Linked DNA regions of Homo sapiens. The protein of the gene in region 1 purifies or fractionates together with the protein of each later gene. This does not show direct contact. Each region holds a gene or a part of one and is shown in the gene's direction. Other genes may lie near its edges.

Region 1 (4,508 bases):
GGCGTGTGTGCTTAAGGGATTGAGCTCGTTGGGCTGGGGACAGAGGCCTGCCTAGGTCTGTTGAGAGGGCCCAGGTAAGACTTCCACCCAGACTGACTGGCTGGGGCACACAGAGAAGCCAGGACAGGGCTGATTGTGTGTGCAGGGGCGTGCCCTCTGGACGAGGCCCCTCCCACCGGGGCGAGGCAGAGGCCTTGCTTGGTTGGAGCGGAGTGGGGGAGTGGGAGGGTCTCCCTGGTGAGATAGTACTGGAAGGGCAGGGACAGCATTCTAGGGAAGGAACCAGAAAGAGCCCCTGCATGGAATGTGGGGATTTCACCATGAGACCCCGGCTGCCTGGCCTCTGAGAACGTGTGTGGGGGGATTCCAGGTGGAAGGTCGTGTCTGGGAGGATGGGTGGGGGGTTGAGCAGTCATTGCCCCTCTCCAGATCTGCGTCCACATCTGTAAAATGGGCCTAGAATTCCCAGCCGCTGGGGGCGAGTGAGGCCATAAATTAGTTGAGATGGACCCAGGCTCCTAAGCCCCCTAGGTCATGACCCCAAACCTTGGAACCCCCGACGGAGACGGTGGGGGTGGCCGAGGCCCAATCGAATCTATCCCGCCCAGATGTGGGAAGAACCGCAGGGCAAACCCCCGGCTTCCCTCCTGGCCGCTCCTCTCTTTGAGGCCACCTCTCTGAGCCCTGATTTGCTGGCGGGTGAACTGGGGATCATCGTGTCCACTGTGGCTGGTGGTCGTGAAACGAAGTGGAAACATGAGTGTTGAGGCCGAGATGGGCGCAGTGCGCGCTCCTAAACAGCTGTCCCCATCCGTCCGCCCCTCCCTCCCTTGCGCGGGTCAGCTGGAGCGGGGGCGCGCCAGGCACGACCCTGGCCGGGCAGAAGGCGGTGGAGCCCTTAGGGGTCGCGGCTCCTACCCCCGGCCCTCCCATGTGCAGATGGGGTAGCAGCCTGGAGGTTTTTCCCAAGGTCACGTAAGGTCAAAGAAAAGGGGAGCTGGACGCGACGAGGAAAGTCACGCACGGCGGAGGGCGGGCCACCTACGCGCGCGCCCGAGTTCGCAGAGCAGCGGCGCCCTCCCGGGCTAGGGCAGCTCGGAGCTCGGAGCCTTTCTTCGCCCGCAGCTCGGGTTCCGGGAGCCCCGCCCCCGCCCATCAACGCCCCGCCCCTTTCGCCACGGCCCCGCCCCTCCTCTCCGTTCTCCCCGCCGGCGCTCCCTCAAGTTTCTCCGAAGTTTTCCGCGGGTCCAGCGGTGCGCCCCGCCCGCCGGCCAGTGACGTAACAATGGTGCAGCGCGGCGGCCAATGGGTGGTGGCGGGGGCCGGCGGCGCGGGCCAATGGCGGCGGCGGACGGTCCCGCTGTCCTGCCTGGCCGGGGCCGCACTGCGCCGCCCGCCGCCCGCCGCCCGCCGCCCGCCGCCGGCGACGGCACCGCCGCCCTGCGATCCGGCCGCGGCGGCTCAGAGCGCGGCTGCGGCGGGCGCGGGCGGCGGTGGCTCCCTCCCGTGCGTCCGTCGTGGGACCTTTGCCCGCTCGCCCGCGGGGGACAGCGCGCGCTCCGGTCCGCGGCAGGGGCGGGGACGCCCGGCCTGTGGCCCCCGCGCCCCCCATGGTGAGTCCCCGTCCCCCGCGCCGCGCCCGCGGCCGCCGCCCCCTCCTCCTCCGGCACACGCGCACGCAGGTGCAGCCCTCGCTGCGCCGGCCACCTGCGCGCGGACGCCCCGCTCGGCCCCGCGACCCTCCGCCGCCCGACGTCTGGCCGTGCAGGCCGGGAGGGGACGGGTAGGAGGTGGCGGGTGGCCCCGGGCGCGGCGCTGCCTTCGATGGCCCAACCCCCTTATTCACGAGCCGCGGCCGTGACTCTGCCCGGTGACGTGGGGAGGCCGAACTTTACGTAACCCGCCCGGCGCCCCACGCGTGCCGGCACAGGGCATATCTGGGGCCCGGAGGCCCAGGCTTGGGGAAGGGGCTCCAGTCACGGTGTTGCCCACGGGCCACAGCCTACCCGCACCGCGCCGCTCTCTTTAACTCAGTTACTGCCAGTGATAGTGACCCAGTCAGTGTGTGTGGACGCGGCCTGCCTTCTGTCCCAGGCCCCTTGTGACCAAGGGCTTACCCTTGAAAGAAGGCAGTAGGGAGGTTGGGACGGAGCCAGAGGTCAGACGCCTAGGCTCAGGTCGGGGCTGGGGACTCAGAGGGCAGGGTCAGGGCCTAAGCTCGATTGCCTGTGGGTTGGGGGTCCCCACCAATTCTGGAATGAGCCCAAACTGAGACGCAGGGGACCTGAGTTCTAGGCCTGGCTCTGCCGTGGCTTGCTGACCTTGGAGAATTGGAGAAGCTTGTGCCCTGCTGGAAAGTGGGATGGCAGTACCCGCTTCATCTAGTAGTCGGGGAGATCAAGAGAGGTATGGGACCTGAAGAGGATGGCAGACTGTGCAGTGCGGTGCACACCGGTCTCCAGGTTGTTTTCACCCTCCTATCTCCTCCCAGGAGCTAACGTGTAAGCAAACATGTTTGGATAGAGGGCTGGTGCCACGCCCCAGGCTCACCCCGCCCGCACAGCCGTCGTCCACCCCTCCCCTTTCTTACAGATAAAGCTGAGGCTCGGCCAGGGACTGTGATATACCCACATCCCCGGAACTAGGTGATCGCGGTGCAGGAACCAGGTAGGTCTGAGTCTGGATCATGCCTCTGAACAGCCCAGGAAGAGGCTCCAGGGGCCTCCAAGTGGTCTGGGGTCGGAGATCAGGGTCAGGGTTGCGCTTGGGCTGGAGAGTGGATTTGCCTCAGCTTGAGATGTGGGCCCAAGCTTTCTCATCCCCTCCCTGGCCTTTTCTTTATTTGGGGTCGTATGAACCTGGCTTAGGTGGGAACAGAAGCTCTTCCAGTGGGTCCCTGGGTTGGAGAGGGGAGGGGAGATTTGAGGGCATGGGCAGCAAGGGCATTTCCAGCAGAGGTGCCAGAGAGCAAGTCAGTTTCAAGGAGGGAGAACAGGTACAGCTAGATCAAGGATGGAGGCGGTGGTTCTGGGCGTCGGAGAGATGGAGCTGTAGGGTGACTGGAAGGGCCTGGCCGAGGCTGGAGGTAGGTACAGGCCTGGTGGGCCAGGACCGGAGGGGCTGTGTGAGGGGCAGAGGGGAGTCCCCGGGCCTCCCCAGTTTCCCCGCGCCTCACCGTGGCCTCTTCCTTTCCCCGCAGGTGTGCCTTCGCGGGATCCATGCCTTGAGGCCCAGGAACGCCCCGCCGCCAGCATGCCGTGGGACGCGCGGCGGCCTGGGGGTGGCGCGGACGGCGGGCCCGAGGCCTCGGGCGCGGCGCGCTCGCGAGCGCAGAAGCAGTGCCGCAAGTCGTCGTTCGCCTTCTACCAGGCGGTGCGCGACCTGCTACCCGTGTGGCTGCTGGAGGATATGCGCGCCAGCGAGGCCTTCCACTGGGACGAGCGCGGGCGCGCCGCCGCCTACTCGCCCTCTGAGGCGCTGCTCTACGCGCTCGTGCACGACCACCAAGCGTACGCGCATTACCTGCTGGCCACGTTCCCGCGGCGCGCGCTCGCACCGCCCAGTGCCGGCTTCCGCTGCTGCGCGGCTCCCGGGCCGCACGTGGCGCTGGCAGTGCGCTACAACCGCGTGGGCATTCTGCGCCGCATCCTGCGCACCTTGCGCGACTTCCCGGCCGAGGAGCGGGCGCGCGTGCTGGACCGGCGTGGCTGCAGCCGCGTGGAGGGCGGTGGCACGTCGCTGCACGTGGCCTGTGAGCTGGCGCGCCCCGAGTGCCTCTTCCTGCTGCTGGGCCACGGCGCCTCGCCCGGTCTGCGGGACGGCGGCGGCCTCACGCCTCTCGAGCTGCTGCTGCGCCAGCTGGGCCGCGACGCCGGGGCCACTCCCTCCGCCGCCGGAGCCCCCGCCTCAGCTCCCGGGGAGCCGCGCCAGCGCCGCCTGCTGCTGCTGGACCTCCTGGCGCTGTACACCCCCGTGGGTGCCGCCGGCTCGGCCCGCCAGGAGCTGCTGGGCGACCGGCCGCGCTGGCAGCGGCTGCTGGGTGAGGACAAGTTCCAGTGGCTGGCGGGCCTGGCGCCGCCCTCGCTCTTCGCGCGCGCCATGCAGGTGCTGGTCACCGCCATCTCTCCAGGCCGCTTCCCCGAGGCCCTGGACGAGCTGCCGCTGCCCCCATTCCTGCAGCCGTTGGACCTCACTGGCAAAGGCTAGGCCCGGAGCACCCTAGGCGCTGGATTTTGGGACAAAACTATTTTTCAGAGCGTTGTACCGGCACTTTATATATATTGATCTCTGTACGGCACAATCTCTGCCTCATCTGTCGCATGCACTGGGGGCTGGGCTTGGATGGTCAGGTGAGTTCCAAGTGGCAGGTTTTCTGGGTGCAGCTGGGCTCGGGCCTTCAGCTCGCTGTCCAGCCCCTGAAGGGAGTGAGGACTAACCTCCCACCTTGATCTAGAGCCTCGGACAGGTGTGCGTCCCAGATGGGTGACAGCTGAGTGCCGCAGGAGCTC
Region 2 (4,076 bases), on another chromosome or scaffold:
AGCATACTATTTTTATTTTTTTTTAACCAAGGTGAGGATACTAAGTACATAGATACATAATGAGAATAGTAATGATAAGTGTTCATATGAAACTTTTCAGTTTTGCGTTTTGTGAAAATATATCTTTTTTTTTTTTTTTTTTTTTGAGACGGAGTCTTGCCCTGTTGCCCAGGCTGGAGTGCAGTGGCGCGATCTTGGCTCACTGCAACCTCCGCCTTCCAGGTTCAAACTATTCTCGTGCTTCAGCCTCCCAAGCAGCTGGGATTACAGGCGTGAGCCACTGCACCGGGCCAAAAATATATCTCTAATTGAAACCTTTTCAGAAATGAGAAGCCACACAAGTGATCAATTAAGGACCATTTTATATTAAGCTAAAATGGAATATCACTCAGTTGAGCAAACTAATATGTACATTGAACTTTGAGCCTATGAAATATAGATTAATGTAAATTGAAAGTATAGCTCCCATATAGTTCTCGATGTAAACTTTTTGGCTTCAATTTATATTATTTTATCTTAAATACAATGGAATTATTTAGAAAACTTGCTAGTCATATTTATGTATGTATTTTTTTTTTTTTTGCATTTTACATACAGGGATGAGCTGTATGTAACGTCTAGCTAGTTTTTTTTTTTTTATTTTATTTTATTTTTTTTAATGTTAGTTTTTTTCCCCTTCTGTTGTCCTTGCTCCTGTTAGGACTTCCTGCTTCTAATGTGACTCCTGCTATACTTGGCAAAAAATTTGTCATAGTGTACATGAAAGTTACTTGTTTAATATTCACTCCTCACTCTCCCTCTATCCCTTCTTTTTTTTTCTTTTTTTTTTTCTTTTCCCCTAACAGTAAACTTCATATATCGAAATTAGAGCATGGGATGTTTGTTTACCTGAGAATTTGTTTTAATTAATCCGAGTTTTCACAACATTAGAAGATAATGAAATATTTATCAGTGAATTTTTATCAAACACACTTTTAAACTTTTCTTGATACCAGGAGCAATTAGGATTATAATTCTGAGCATTTATTATTACAGAAAACTAAAGGTAAGAAATGTGGGAAAATGTGCTGAATACATTCCAGTGTTGTGGCATACTTTGGAGGTTGTTTTTGCATGGAAACCAGTTATCAACGTGTTGTCACTTGTCCTGTGTTTTAAAAAATAATAAACAGTGTAGCTATTTAAAGCTATTAGTTGTTTGAGTTGTCTGTAAATATGAATCATTAAGTGACTATTAAATAAAAATAGTTTCTATTTGTGTTGTTACTTCCATCCAGATTTGTTGCTTTTTCAATATTAACACTGATTCTCAGAGTTAACAGATCTGATATAAATGGGAAAAGGCAAAAAATGCAGCACTTTGAGAAGTTCCAGGTTAATAGTTGTTAAGTAAAAGGTTTTGTAGTTGAAATAAATTTGGAGGATATTTGCCTAAAGAAAGTTAATAGGTTTCTTCTCTGGATGACTTAACATAGTTAGTTTTTGATAGGTGATTTATTTTCAAAGAAGATGATAGAATTTACAGCATATTGCAGAGTCATTTAACCATGGAGGTGAATACACTTTCTTGTATTTCACTTAGGGAAATCCTGGAGTGATGAGTTACGTATCAAGAAAGGCTCCCTGAACATCCAGGGGTCCTTTTGAACACACACATGCACATACATCATACATCCACGCTCACACACAGTTGTCTTGCCCATAAGTGCTTAGTAAAATATTATGACTTGGTTTTGTTGATTAATATATTTGTAATAGAAATACTCTTGGGGCACATTAATCTTTAAGCTATATAAGCTATTTCTTCAATTATTAATGACACTGCAAGAGCTACTAACCAAAGCAAGAAGACCATAGGTCCACTGGCATTCAGAGGTGTCAAGAGGTAGGAAAGGGATTTTATAACGGGAGTGGAAGGACATCAGTATCTAAAATGAGTTTGGCTTGCCACTCTACACACAGCCTTACTTGGCATCTTTTGACAAACCAAGAGGAATATTGATAAACATTCTTAAAGAATTTTTTCTTTTTAAATATTATTTTAATTGACAGTCATTTTTATGCATTTATGGGGTACAGGGTGATATTTTGAAATGTGTGTACAATGTGGAATGATTAAGTGCAGCTGAATAACATATCACCTTGATTATTTTCTATGGTGAGACAATTGAAATTTAGTTATTTAAAAAATAAAATACATGATTGTTGACAGTTGTTTAATTGATCTAAAAATTTCTTCCTTCTATCTATCTGAAACTTTGTACTCTGAGCAGTATATCCCCATTGCTCCCTCTTCTCCAGGCTCTGGTATCTGTCATTCTGCTGTCTACTTCTGTGAGTTTGACTTCTTAAATTTCACATATAAGTGAGATCGTGTGGTATTTGTCTTCCCATGCTTGGCTTTTTTCAGTTAGCATGATGTTCTCCATGTTCGTTCATGTTGTAGCAAGTGACAGAATTTCCTTCTCTTTTAAGCCCAATTAGTATTCCATTGTATCTACCACCTTTTCTTCATCTGTTTATCCATTGATGGACACTTAGGTTGATTCTTTGTCTTGGATTTTGTGACTAATGCTGCTGTGAACCTGGGAGTGCAGATATCCTTTCAACATATTGAGTTCCGTTTTTTGGAAATATACCCAGGAGTGAGATTGTATGGTAGTTTTATTTTTAGGTTTTTGAGGAACTTACATACCATTTTTCATAATGTTTGTATTAATTTGCATTTCTACCTACAGTGTACAAGAATTCCCTTTTCTTCACATTCATGGCATCACTTACTCTCATTTTTTTGATTATAGCCATTCTAACAGGTGTGAGGTGATATCTCATTGTGGTTTTAATTTGCATTTTCCTAATGGTTAGTGATGCTGAGCAGTTTTTCATGTATTTGTTGGCCAGATTTATGTCTTCCTTTGAGACATGTCTATTCAAGCCCTTTGCCCATTTTAAAAATGGTTATTTTCTTGAAATTGTGTTGAGTTCCTTTTATATTTAGTCTGTTAACCACTTATCACATGTATGGTTTACACTTTCTCCCAAGTTGTGGAGTGGAAAAGTGTATCCCAGCTCTGGTAGATATACCTCTTTCTGTTTTTGTTATCTCTGGGCCCCCAGCAGATTGGGTGGTGCCTGCCCACATGGAAGGCAGACCTCCAGGTAGTCTACTCAGACTCACATGCTAATCTCAGTCTCCTCTGGAAACATCCTCACAGACACATCCAAAGGAATGCTTTACCAGGTTTTTAGGTATTCCTTAATATAGTCAAGTTGACATCTAAAATTATCCACCACAATGACTTTACAGCTTTCCCTGAATGAGGTTCTCAGATTATGGCTTTTTAAACTGTGCTTTGAAATTTTGTGGTTTCATAGACCATGAAGTGCCTCCTCAATTGATTGTAATCTGGAATTGACTTTCTATTTCAGAGTCAGGTTTAATTTTGGTGTCACAAAGCCTTAAATATGTGTAAGGAGAGGAAACGTTGAAGCAAGCAGATAGCTCTTAAACTGTTTAACGTTTTAAAAGTATTTGGAATTAAATGAATAAATAGGCTGGAGTGATAGTGATAAATACTGTGTCTATCAACAAATTATACATATGGCAACACACAAACCTGTATGTTAAGCACTATAAGGGATGAGTCTCAACTTTATCACTTATTTATGATGGGATTTTGGGGAACTAGTTTGAACTTTCTAAGCTTTTAATTTCCTTCTGTGTAAAATTGGGGTAATAGCACCTTTCTTGCTGTTCTTACATTGTTATGAAGATCATATAAGATGATGGAGGGTATAACTTTGTAAATTGCCAGTCATTATAGAAATAGTGGTAGTACATCGGGTTTTTTTTTTTTTCTGTATATTCCTTGTACTAATGAATGTAAATCCTAGGCTCCATGTAGTTTTATTGCTCACTATTTTCTTGGTGGATAGGTGGGTGGGTCCTGAGGGGAAATTAGGAGGGGAGTCTCCTGGCTAGTGGTGCAGTTACAGGGGAGACAGGGAATAGACTAAAAGAAGTGAAAGAGAAAAAAGGGGATAGTTTCTTGTGTGGTTGGTAAACCGATTTCAAT
Region 3 (4,076 bases), on another chromosome or scaffold:
ACCGGACAATACTTCATTCACCTAATTTCCAGACTAGTCAAGCAAAGACATCAGCTCATTGTATTTAGTCATGAGGAAATTTATTTGTAAACTTCAAATAGTAGCACACTGCTCCCAAAAGCCCCTGAACTATGAGAAATTGCTTTCTGATTCAGAAATGTGAAGTCCTTGGAATTTAGAACTGCTTCCCTTTTTTTTCTTTCTTAATAACCCTTGCAAGAGAAATTAGCTCTTAATAGAAAATATATGTTAAAGTCTAAGAATAATTTTGGAATTATCTTAAAGTGAAAATTTAGAAAGTTCAATTTGCATCCAGACTTTTATTATCTACCTTGATTCTCACATGATTATTTTCTCTCTTAGAAAACAACAGTTTTGTTGGCATGTGAAGCTCCAGTTTCCTCAAAGTCAAGCTGAGTACATAGAAAAAAGGTATCACTGCTATCTTTCAATCACTGATTTGTTTTAATTTGAAGGCTGTGTATTTAAAATAAACTGTTAACTTAATGTCAGTAGTAGAATGGATAACTAAATTGTGGTGTATTTATACAATGAAATGCTAAACATCACTAAAAATGAACTACAGCTATGCACATCAACATGGATGAATCTCAGAAATAATATAAGAAAAGCAAGTTAAGGAAGAATGTAGAGAACATGATTGTAAATATGGGGGAAAAAAGCCAGAAAACTAAATAGTGTACTTTTGGGAATACCTACAAAGGTGATAGAACTAACTCTAAGGGAAATTATTAACATAGAAATCCTGATGATGGTTTCTTTAGCAGCAAAGCAAGTATTGAGGAGAGGGATCCGAGGAGAATTAGACGGCTGAAAGTTTCCTATTTCTTCAGCTGGGTGGTTGTTAAGGAAGTGAAAAATGACCCAAAATTCTACCATGCAAAGATTACTACTATTAACATTATAGTGTATCACTCAGAAAATACATTATTTTAGAAGTATATATGTGTACTCATTGGAATTAATTTGCATAAAGTTTTTGTGTTACTGTTTCATATTAAAACTTGTTCTTTTCTTTTTCTTTATTTTTGGAGGGGAGTGGGGGCAGGATCTTGCTCTGTTGCCCACGCTGGAGTGCAGTGGTGCGGACCTCCGCTCACTGCAGCTTCAACCTCCTGGGCTCAGGTGATCCTCCTACCTCAGCCTCCAAGTAGGTGGGACTAAAGGCTCAGGCCATCACGCCCAGCTAATCTTGTTTAGTTTTGTAGAGGCAAGGCCTCACTATGTTGCCCAGGCAGGTCTCAAACTCCTGGCCTCAAGCAATCCTCCCCTCTCTGCCTCCCAAAATGTCGGAATTACAAGTGTGAGCCACCGCATCCAGCCTATAAACATTTTCAAGTGTCATTTAAACATTTTAATGTTGGCCAGATGCAGCGGCTCACACCTATAATCCCAGCACTTTGGGAGGTCGAGGCGGATGGATTGCCTTTGGCCAGGAGTTAGAGACCAGCTTGGCCAACATGGTGAAACCCCGTCTCTACTAAAAATACAAAAATTAGCTGGGGGAAGTGGCGCACCCCTGTAATCACAGCTACTTGGGAAGCTGAGGCATGAGAATAGCTTAAATGCAGGAGGCGGAGGTTGCAGTGAGCCAAGATCATGCCACTGCACTCCAGCCTGGGCGACAGAGCAAGACTCTGTCTCAACAACAACAACAAAAAAATTAAAAAAAAAAAAAAAAAACATTTTAATGTTTGTGAACTATTTCATTCCTTGATTTAGGAAAATTTTAAAGTTGCTCTTTAAGTAGTATATTTAGCATATTCCTATATTATACATAAATATCCTCTCTTTGTAGTTGTCAAAGGGATTTTAGTGAAGAACTTTGTTATTTGGAGTTGCATACAAGGAAAAGACTTATTTTACATCTAGGGGTATGTAGCCAATAGTATATATGAATATGTATAAATGGTTGAGGAAAGTTACTGTTTTAAAACAGTGTCTTAATTTTGTTTATACAGCTTTATAGATAAGTTTAAAACAGCGTGCATATATGGAAGAAAGTTGGAAAACTTAAAATGTTTTGTTTCCAAGGAAATTACTATCAATTTTTTAACTTGGTCTTATAAATTAGAATGAGTAAATTTGAACATGCACTGAAATCTGAAACCTTTTTTCAGATTTATTATTTCTGCTAGTTTCAAATATATTTTATCCTGACCTCGTCTTTTCATGTTTGAGTACAGGTGTGTGTTAAGAGGCTTCATATTTTTATAATTGATTTATACAGAACTTCTCAAAATGTTGTTTTTTAAGACCTTAAGTGTGTCCAAGAACTCTTTTTGAGCTTTTTCCTAAGTAATTTTTGCTTAAAATGATATTTTATTTTGCCAAGAGTAATATAAAAGGTCTTTGTTCAGTTATTTAAACCAAAAAAGCCACAATATTTAATAATTCAAAATTAACACCTTTAGTAGAAAATTATAAATACTAATATAGCTTGTTTTTTTTTCTTTGTTGTAAAGAGTACCAGATGATAAAACTATTAATGAAATCCTAAAACCTTACATTGATCCTGAAAAGTCTGATCCTGTAATTCGTCAAAGGTATGCTTCAAAAATATTGTAACTTTCTGAAATAATTAAAAATGTTGATGTACTTATTAGGGTCATCCATGACTATTAGAATGTGATGTGTAGTACAATTTACTTTCTATCACATTTTCTTGGTGTTTACTGAAGGTCTGTCTGTAGAAATAGCTGACATTCATTGTTTCCTATGTTCCAGACACTCTTCAAAGCAGACAGTAATAAATGTGTTAATTCATTTAATCCTCACAATAACTCTGAAAAGTAGATTATTATTATACCCATTTTACAGATGGAGAAACTGAGCCTTGAAGTGGTTAAGTAATATCCTATAGCTAGTAAACAGGGAAGCTAGGATTCACACCCAGGCAGTCTGGAGTCAAAGTCTTTACTCTTAACCCTTAAACTAAACTACCTTTGAGGTTGAACGAAAAACTCTGAAAATGAAAAGTTTCCAAGTAACTTAAAGACAGGAAATCCTGTTTCAGCCAAGTCTTCTTAGAACTAAGTAAAGTACACTCTGCCTCCTGTCCAGAAATACAGCATGGACAAAAGTGGTTAACATAACATAGTGGAAAGATTCAGTCATGGATATCTGGGTTAAAATAGCTGTTTCTGTCCCTTATTAGCTGTGTGATTAAGAGCAAGTTACTTAATTTCCAGGCCTTATTTTTTCTCATCAGTGAAATAAGAATGATAACACTTCCTAGATAGGGTTGTTACAAAGCTTAAAAGAAATAGCATATATGAAATTCCTAGTACAGGACCTAGCATATAGTAGACACTACTCGAAAACGGAGATTGTTATTAGAGTGTGAGTTATTAGTGCTCCTGGGCAGAAACCCGGTTGACTTTATTTTCACCAGATGGTACTTGCTTGGGATGTGAATGAGTGCTTGGTTTGGTTCCAGAATAACCTGGTATTTAAAATTTAGACTGGGTGGATTCTAAAATGTCTAATCCAGTTCTAATTGAATCTCATTCTTTTGCTTTTGATAAAAGGTCATGCCCAGACTGAACCAGACCCATGTCACATATCAAGCAGTCTTTAAAATAGCTATGATAGTTGAGTTTCTTTCCTTATAACTGGTAACCTAGTTATTATCATTAGTCATATATTTGCCAGTAAGACAAAATGTCACTGAATAGGATACATTTTTGTAAAATTATATAGCCAGATTAATTTATTGAAACAGGTGTTTTAAAATTTAAGATGTTTAATTGAACAAAGGAAAAAAATTATTTTCTTTTCAGATTTCTGGTTAGAAAACATCTTTATCTCCTTTTCTATGCTTAAATACATGAACTTTTAAGTATTATTAGGTACAAATGCTTAGTCTCCATAAGACTATCTTGAAATATATTAAAAATCAGCTTTTCCTTCAATATGATGTTTTTATTTCAGGTTGAAAGCCTACATTCGCTCTCAGACTGGGGTTCAGATTTTAATGAAGATTGAATATATGCAGCAAAATTTAGTAAGGTAAAATTGCTCCCCTCCCCATTTCTTTAAATATTTTTTAGTTC
Region 4 (4,076 bases), on another chromosome or scaffold:
TTTATATAGATTTTCCATGTATTAATATATAGTTGTTCATAGTCTTATTTTTTATTTCAGTATAGCTATGGTTACTTTTTTCATTCTGTGTTTTGTATATTTGTATCCTTGATCTGTCTTGCTAGAGGTTTGTCTTTTTAATTAACTTTTGATATTGAAAATTTCCAAGCATACATAAGAGAGTGTAAAAAACTTGCAAGCACCCATTACTCAACTTTAACAACTATCCATATTTTGCCATATTTTTTTTTTTGCCTTATCTTTTTAAGAAATGTCTTATAGAGTGGGTGAGGTGGCCCATGCCTGTAATTCTTGCTCTCTGGGAGGTGGAGGTGGGAGGATCACTTGAGGCCAGGAGTTGGAGATGAACCTGGGCAACATAGAAAAACACTGTCTCTCTCTCTTTCTTTTTTTTGAGATGGAGTCTCACTTTGTCACCTAGGCTGGAGTGCAGTGGCGTGATCTTGGCTCATTGCAATCTCCACTTCTTCAGTTCAAGGAATTCTTGTGCCTCATCCTCCCAGGTAGCTGGGATTACAGGCATCCACCATCATGCCTGGCTAATTTTTGTGTTTTTAGTGGAGACTCCCAACATGGGGTTTTGCCATGTTGGCCAGGCTGGTCTCAAACTCCTGACCTCAAGTGATCTGCCCACCTCGGCCTCCCAAATTGCTGAAATTATGCACCTGGCCAGAAAGACCCTGTCTGTACCAAAAAAAGAAAAAAAAGTAGCGAGCCTATGGTCCTAGCTAACTCGGGAGGCTGAGGTGGGAGGATTCCTGGAGCCAAGAGTTCAAGGCTACAGTGAAATATGATTGTGCCCCGACACTCCAGCCTGGGTGACAGTGCAAGACCATGTCTCTATAAAAGATAGAAATAAAAAAAAAATCACTTCCATACAAAACTATAATATTACAAAATTAACAATAATTGGTTAATATCATCTAATAACTACTCCATAATAAAAATTTTCCCTATTGGGTAAAAATATATAGTGCAGTTGTTCTAATTGGTATCTAAACAAGTTGTACTCCTATTTGGTTCCTACATCTCAAGCTTTTCTAAATGTCTTGTAATCTAGAATAAGGGTTGACACATTTTTTTCTGTAAAGTGTTAGGTAGTAAATATTTTAGGCTTTGTATACCATGCTAAGTCTCTGTTGCTTATTCTTCTTTCTAAAAAACCCTTTAAAAATGTAAAACCTTTCTTAGTATGAGGGGCATACAAAAACAGGTATACTTTTGTCCACAGGCCATCATTTGTCAACTGCTGATCTGGAAGATCCCTCCTCACCATTTTTTTCTCCTTGCCATTGACTTGTTGAGGAAACTGGATCATTTGTTCACATTCTGGATTTTGTTGTGGTTTCCTTGTAGTGTCTTGTATTTTAATCCTCACATTTGTATTTTTGGTAGTCACAGTGTTTGATCTATAGGCTCAATTAGATTTAGTTTTTTTTTTTTTTTTTTCCTGTTGCGGGGAGTGGTGCAAGAAGACTTTAGTGATGCCATGTACATTCCATTGCATCACATCAGTGGATATGTAAGATAGGATTGCTTCACTTTTAATGGGTTCAGTTAATGTCCACCGATACTGTGTCCAACAAACTTACTCTTTGGTTTTACCATTTATTTATTTCTTGAATCAGTTACTTAATTATGGGTTACAACATGGTTATTCTCGAATTCTCTCATTTCTTCTGTATTTTTAAGTTTGATTCTTTTTTGTAGAATTGCTTTACTCCATCCGTTAGGTCTATTTAGTTATTCTGATAGATAGTTCAAATTGGAAAAGTAGGATAAATGCTTACTCTTTATCAATTTTTAGAGTAATAATTGGTACCCTACTAACCTCCATTAGTATCCAGTTAGAAGTTTGGTTGTTTTATTAATTTTTTCAAAGAACTAGCTTATATTTTGTTAATTTGTCATTGTTGTCTATTTTGTTGATTTCTGCTCTTGACTATTTCCTTCCTTTTCATGTGTTTGGATTTATTGTTTTTCCCCCCAAGTTTCTGAATGCTTAGCTTATTGGTTTTCAGTGTTTTTGTTGTTGTTGTTGTTTGTTTTTTTTTAATTATACTTTAAGTTCTGGGATACATGTGCAGAACATGTGGGTTTGTTACATAGGTATACATGTGCCATGGTGGTTTGCTGCACCCTCAATCCATCATCTACATTAGGTATTTCTCCTAATGCTATCCCTCCCCCAGTCCCCCACTCCCCAGCAGGTCCTGGTTTGTGATATTCCCCTCCCCTGTGTCTATGTGTTCTCATTGTTCAACTCCCACTTATGAGTAAGAACATGCAGTGTTTGGTTTTCTGTTCCTGTGTTAGTTTGCTGAAAATGATGGTTTCCAGCTTCATCCATGTTCCTGAAAAGGACATGAACTCATCCTTTTTTATGGCTGCCTAGTATTTCATGGTGATAGTATTTCCAGTCTATCACTGATGGGCATTTCGGTTGGTTCCAAGTCTCTGCTATTGTGTATAGTGCTGCAATACACAAACGTGTGCATGTGTCTTTATAGCAGAATGATTTATAATTCTTTGGGTATATACCCAGTAATGGGATTGCTGGGTCAAATGGTATTTCTGGTTCTAGATCCTTAAGGAATCACCACACTGTCTTCCACAATGGTGGAACTAATTTACACTCCCACCAACAGTGTAAAAGTGTTCCTGTTTCTCCACATCCTCTCCAGCACCTGTTGTTTCCTGACTTTTTAATGATCACCATTCTAACTAGCATGAAATGGTATCTCATTGTGGTTTTGATTTGCATTTCTCTAATGACCCGTGATGATGAGCTTTTTTTCATATGTTTGTTGGCTGCATAAATGTCTTCTTTTGAGAAGGATCTGTTTGTATCCTTCGCCCACTTTTTGATGGGGTTGTTTGTTTTTTTCTTGTAAATTTGTTTAACTTCCTTGTAGATTCTGGATATTAGCCCTTTCTCAGATGGATAGATTGCAGAAATTTTCTCCCATGCTGTAGGTTGCCTGTTCACTCTGATGATAGTTTCTTTTGCTGTGCAGAAGCTCTTTAGTTTAACTAGATCCCATTTGTCAATTTTGGCTTTGTTGCCATTGCTTTTGGTGTTTTAGTCGTGAAGTCTTTGCCCATGCCTGTGTCCTAAATGGTATTGCCTAGGTTTTATTCTAGGGTTTTTATGGTTTTGGGTCTTACGTTTAAGTGTTTAATCCATCTTTATTTGATTTTTGTATAAGGTGTAAGGAGGGGGTCCAGTTTCAGTTTTCTGCATATGGCTAGCCAGTTTTCCCAACACCATTTATTAAATAGGGAATCCTTTCTTCATTGCTTGTTTTTGTCAGGTTTGTCAAAGATCAGATGGTTGTAGATGTGTGGTGTTATTTCTGAGGCTTCTGTTCTGTTCCATTGGTCTATATATCTGTTTTGGTACCAGTACCTTGCTGTTTTGGTTACTGTAGCCTTGTAGTATAGTTTGAAGCCAGGCAGTTTGATGCCTCCAACTGTGTTCTTTTAGCTTAGGATTGTCTGGCTATATAGGCTCTTTTTTGTTTCCATATGAAATTTAAAGTATTTTTTTTTCTAATTCTGTTAAGAAAGTCAATGGTAGCTTGATGGGGATAGGACTGAATCTATAAATTACTTTGGGCAGTATGGCCATTTTCACGATATTGATTCTTCCTATCCATGAGCATGGAATGTTTTTGCATTTGTTTGTGTCCTCTCGTATTTCCTTGAGCAGTGGTTTGTAGTTCTCTTTGAAGAGGTACTTCACATCCCTTGTAAATTGTATTCCTAGGTATTTTATTCTCTTTGTAGCAGTTGTGAATGGGAGTTCACTCATGATTTGACTGTTAGTCTGTTATTGGTGTATAGTAATGCTTGTGATTTTTGCCATTGATTTTGTATCCTGAGACTTTGCTGAAGTTGCTTATCAGCTTAAGTTGATTTTGGGCTGAGATGATGGGGTTTTCTAAATATACAATCATGTCATCTGCAAACAGAGACAGTTTGACTTCCTCTCTTCCTATTTGAATACGCTTTATTTCTTTCTTTTGCCTGATTGCCCTGGCCAGAACTTACAA
Region 5 (4,076 bases), on another chromosome or scaffold:
GGGGCTGGGACAAGGCCCTGCTGTCCTCAGGCACAGGGGCTGTGACAAGGCCTTCAACACAGAACCTGGAGCTGACCCCTTGACCTCCCTGACCCCTGATCTGTCCCTGCAGGAGCCTGGTGGCCAGACTGCCCTGAAGAGTCCCCCAGGAGTCTGCAGCAGAGACCCCACCCCAGAGCAGACCCACAGGCTGGCCCGGGCCATGATGGCCTTCACTGCCGACCTGTTCTCCCTGGTGGCTCAAACGTCCACCTGCCCCAACCTCATCCTGTCACCCCTGAGTGTGGCCCTGGCGCTGTCTCACCTGGCACTAGGTACCCTGGCACCACTTGTCCAGACCAAGAGAGCTGGGAGGCCAGTAGGAACTCAGTACTCCAATGGTTCTCCGCGGGCGGTTCCTCCACCAGGGTCACGTGGCTGTTTGGTAAAAATGCAGATTCCTAGGCCGGGGCGGTGGCTCACGCCTGTAATCCCAACACTTTGGGAGGCTGAGGCGGGTGGATCACGAGGTCAGGAGTTCAAGACCAGCCTGGCCAACATGGTGAAACTCTCTCTACTAAAAATACAAAAAATTTAGCTGTGCGTGGTGGTGCGCACCTGTAATTCCAGCTACTCAGGAGGCTGAGGCAGAGAACTGTTTGAACCTGGGAGTTGGAGGTTACAGTGAGCCGAGATGGCGCCACTGCACTCCAGCCTGGGTGACAGAGCAAGATTCCGTCTCAAACAACAACAACAACAAATGCAGATTCCTGGGCCCCCACCCATCTGTCTATGTGAATCAGATCTCAGGGACTGGGCCGGGGAATCTGCTTATTTACAAGTCCTCCTGGTGATTTTTTTTTTTTTTTTGAGACAGAGTCTTGCTCTGTCACCCAGGCTAGAGTGCAGTGGTGTGATCTCAGCTCACTGCAACCTCTGTCTCCCAGGTTCAAGCAATTCTCCTGCCTCAGCCTCCCAAATAGCTGGGATCACAGGCACCAGCCACCATGCACAGCTGATTTTTGTATTTTTAGTAGAGACGGGGTTTCACCATGTTGGCCAGGGTGGTCTCGAACTCTCGACCTAAGGTGATCAACCTGCCTCAGCCTCCCAAAGTGCTGGGATTACAGGCGTGAGCCACCGCGCCCGGCCCCTCCTGGTGATTCTTATGCAAGAGTTTGCTAGCTACACTCTTTCCCACTGTGCTGGAGGGTCTCACTGTGGGAAACGGAAGCCCAGAGAGGGAAGGTAACTTGTGGGGGGTGAGGTCACCCAGCCTGTCAGCCACAGGGGTGAGAGCCACGCAGAACAGATCCGTGGCTGTGGAAGGATGGCGTGTGGTCCCGTGGACGTCCTCGTCACGGGTATCCAGGAGGGACTGGAGTGGGCAGTGGGGGTGAGAAAGGACCCGCAGCCGGGCCTCAGCCTGTGCGGTGCCCTCCAGGTGCTCAGAACCACACGTTGCAGAGGCTGCAACAGGTGCTGCACGCAGGCTCAGGGCCCTGCCTCCCCCATCTGCTGAGCCGCCTCTGCCAGGACCTGGGCCCCGGCGCGTTCCGACTGGCTGCCAGGATGTACCTGCAGAAAGGTAGGCGCTGATGGCAGGGAGCTCCCTCAGTCCTGCCCTGGGTGGAGGAGGGTGAGAGCAAGGGGCTGGGCCTCTGGTAGCGAGTAGGGGCGTGTCTGGCTGTGGAGCCTGGAGCCCTGGGAACAGCTTGTGCTGCCTCCGTGCAGGATTTCCCATCAAAGAAGATTTCCTGGAACAATCCGAACAGCTATTTGGGGCAAAGCCCGTGAGCCTGACGGGAAAGCAGGAAGATGACCTGGCAAACATCAACCAATGGGTGAAGGAGGCCACGGAGGGGAAGATTCAGGAATTCCTCTCTGGGCTGCCGGAAGACACCGTGTTGCTTCTCCTCAACGCCATCCACTTCCAGGGTGCGCTCCTCCTCCTCTCAGATCCCCCACCCTGTAGGCTGAGCTGGGACGTGCAGGCCTTTTTGTTTTTTGAGACAAGTCTCGCTCTGTCACCCAGGGTGGAGCGCAGTGGCGCGATCTCGGCTCCCTGCAACCTCCGCCTCCCGGATTGAAGCGATTCTCCTGGCTCAGCCTCCCCAGTAGCTGGGATTACAGGCATCTGCCACCACACCCAGCTAATTTTTGTATTTTAGTAGAGACAGGGTTTCACCATGTTGGCCAGGCTGGCCTTGAACTCCTGACCTCAGGTGATCCACCCACCTCGGCCTCCCAAAGTGCTGGGATTACAGGCGTGAGCCACCGCGCCCGGCCATGCAGGCTTTGTTCTGAGGGTCTCCTTTCTTCCTCAGTCTGGGCCATGAGGCAGGAGGCTGTCTGGGTGTGGTGGGGATGGGTGCCCAGGAGCCAGATGAGTTGTTCTAGAGTGAATACCCTGGGAACAAATGGTCTGAAAAGATCCAGGAGGGGCTGGGCGCGGTGGCTCACGCCTGTAATCCCAACACTTTGGGAGGCCGAGGCGGGCAGATCATGAGGTCAGGAGATGGAGACCATCCTGGCTAACACGGTGAAACCCCCGTCTCTGCTAAAAATACAAAAAAATTAGCTGGGCGTAGTGGCGGGCACCTGTAGTCCCAGCTACTCGGGAGGCTGAGGCAGGAGAATGGCGTGAGCCCGGGAGGCGGTGGAGCTTGCAGTGAGCGGAGGTCGTGCCACTGCACTCCAGCCTGGGCGACAGAGCGAGACTCCGTCTAAAAAAAAAAAAAAAGATCCAGGAGGAGGTTCCTAGGAGAATTGCAGGGGTTGGGGAAAACACAAGCCCAGATTTCAAAAATGCTACGGGAAAGAGACCTTAGATCAATTGGATGCCAGCTAGCATTCCCTGGGGTCTTGGCCTCCACCGCTGTCTCATCCTTGAATGGATTCTGGGTGGGACAGGCAACGGGCTGGGGGTGCAGAGCCCAAGCTGGTCCCCATCGACGTGACCCCTGCCCTCTGCCCCAAGCTGGTCCCCGTCGACGTGACCCCTGCCCTCTGCTGGGTTTCAGGTTTCTGGAGGAACAAGTTTGACCCGAGCCTTACCCAGAGAGACTCCTTCCACCTGGACGAGCAGTTCACGGTGCCCGTGGAAATGATGCAGGCCCGCACGTACCCGCTGCGCTGGTTCTTGCTGGAGCAGCCTGAGATCCAGGTCACCCTTGGTTGTCCAGCAGGCTGGGCCTGAGGCTGGGAGGTGGGGAAGGGAGTGGACAGGCTGTGGAGCAGGCACAGGGATGGGTGGAGGCTGTCTCGCCTTCCTTGCCTCCACGTCCCCTAGGCAGGCAACTGCAAAAGGTCCCATGATCCCCCATCCTACCTGGCAGGAGGACTGAGGCTCCAGGCTCTTTGAGGTTTAGTAATTCAGTGAAAATATACTGGGCATTTGCTGTGTTCCAGATACTGTTCTAAGCACTAGGGTTTTTGTGGAGCATGAGGGAGGCCAGGTCTCTGCTCTTAGGAAGGAGGATACACAGTGCAACAGTGAATGGACATCAACACAGGAATTCCAGACGCTGGGAAGCGCTGTGGAGGGAAAGCTGAAAAAGAAGGTGATTTTGGCCGGGAGCGGTGGCTCACGCCTGTAATCCCAGCACTTTGGGTGGCCCAGGCAGGTGGATCATAAGGTCAGGAGTTTGAGACCAGCCTGGCCAAGATTTGAAACCCCGTTTCTACTAAAAATACAAAAATTAGCCAGGCGTGGTGGCAGGTGCCTGTAATCCCAGCTACTCCAGAGGCTGAGGCAGGAGAATCACTTGAACCCAGGAGGGAAAGGTTGCAGTGAGCTGTGATTTTGAGGTCAGGAGTTCGAGACCAGCCTGACCAACATAGCAAAGCCCCGTCTCTACTAAAAATACAAAAATTAGCCAGCCATGGTGGCGGGCGCCTGTAATCCCAGATACTCTGGAGGCTGAGGCAGGAGAATCACTTGAACCCGGGAGACGGAGGCTGCAGTGGGCTGAGATCGCACCACTGCACTCCAGCCTGGGAGACAGATTGAGACTCCGACTCAGAAAAAACAAAGGCTGGCCTTGAACTCCTGACCTCAGGTCATCTGCCCACCTCGGCCTCCCTAAGTGCTGGGA

Evidence for each region.
Region 2: the proteins of ANKRD9 (region 1) and SNX13 purify together in Homo sapiens (affinity purification with mass spectrometry; one large-scale study listed by BioGRID and IntAct). This does not show direct contact.
Region 3: the proteins of ANKRD9 (region 1) and ZNHIT6 purify together in Homo sapiens (affinity purification with mass spectrometry; one large-scale study listed by BioGRID and IntAct). This does not show direct contact.
Region 4: the proteins of ANKRD9 (region 1) and SNX14 purify together in Homo sapiens (affinity purification with mass spectrometry; one large-scale study listed by BioGRID and IntAct). This does not show direct contact.
Region 5: the proteins of ANKRD9 (region 1) and SERPINF2 purify together in Homo sapiens (affinity purification with mass spectrometry; one large-scale study listed by BioGRID and IntAct). This does not show direct contact.

What each region holds. Positions count from the first base shown.
Region 1 is NC_000014.9:102,506,634-102,511,141, reverse strand, and holds the start of ANKRD9 (ankyrin repeat domain-containing protein 9), read left to right. Parts: upstream 1-1,365; 5' UTR 1,366-1,613; intron 1,614-2,289; exon of another isoform or gene 2,290-2,295; 5' UTR 2,296-2,501; intron 2,502-2,592; 5' UTR 2,593-2,667; intron 2,668-3,199; 5' UTR 3,200-3,252; coding exon 3,253-4,206; 3' UTR 4,207-4,508.
Region 2 is NC_000007.14:17,933,583-17,937,658, reverse strand, and holds part of SNX13 (sorting nexin-13), read left to right. Parts: intron 1-4,076. UniProt on the Homo sapiens protein: May be involved in several stages of intracellular trafficking. May play a role in endosome homeostasis. Acts as a GAP for Galphas.
Region 3 is NC_000001.11:85,677,192-85,681,267, reverse strand, and holds part of ZNHIT6 (box C/D snoRNA protein 1), read left to right. Parts: intron 1-363; coding exon 364-432; intron 433-1,819; exon of another isoform or gene 1,820-1,895; intron 1,896-2,486; coding exon 2,487-2,567; intron 2,568-3,954; coding exon 3,955-4,032; intron 4,033-4,076. UniProt on the Homo sapiens protein: Required for box C/D snoRNAs accumulation involved in snoRNA processing, snoRNA transport to the nucleolus and ribosome biogenesis.
Region 4 is NC_000006.12:85,583,385-85,587,460, reverse strand, and holds part of SNX14 (sorting nexin-14), read left to right. Parts: intron 1-4,076. UniProt on the Homo sapiens protein: Plays a role in maintaining normal neuronal excitability and synaptic transmission. May be involved in several stages of intracellular trafficking. Required for autophagosome clearance, possibly by mediating the fusion of lysosomes with autophagosomes.
Region 5 is NC_000017.11:1,745,596-1,749,671, forward strand, and holds part of SERPINF2 (alpha-2-antiplasmin isoform a precursor), read left to right. Parts: intron 1-112; coding exon 113-314; intron 315-1,423; coding exon 1,424-1,567; intron 1,568-1,713; coding exon 1,714-1,917; intron 1,918-3,002; coding exon 3,003-3,145; intron 3,146-4,076.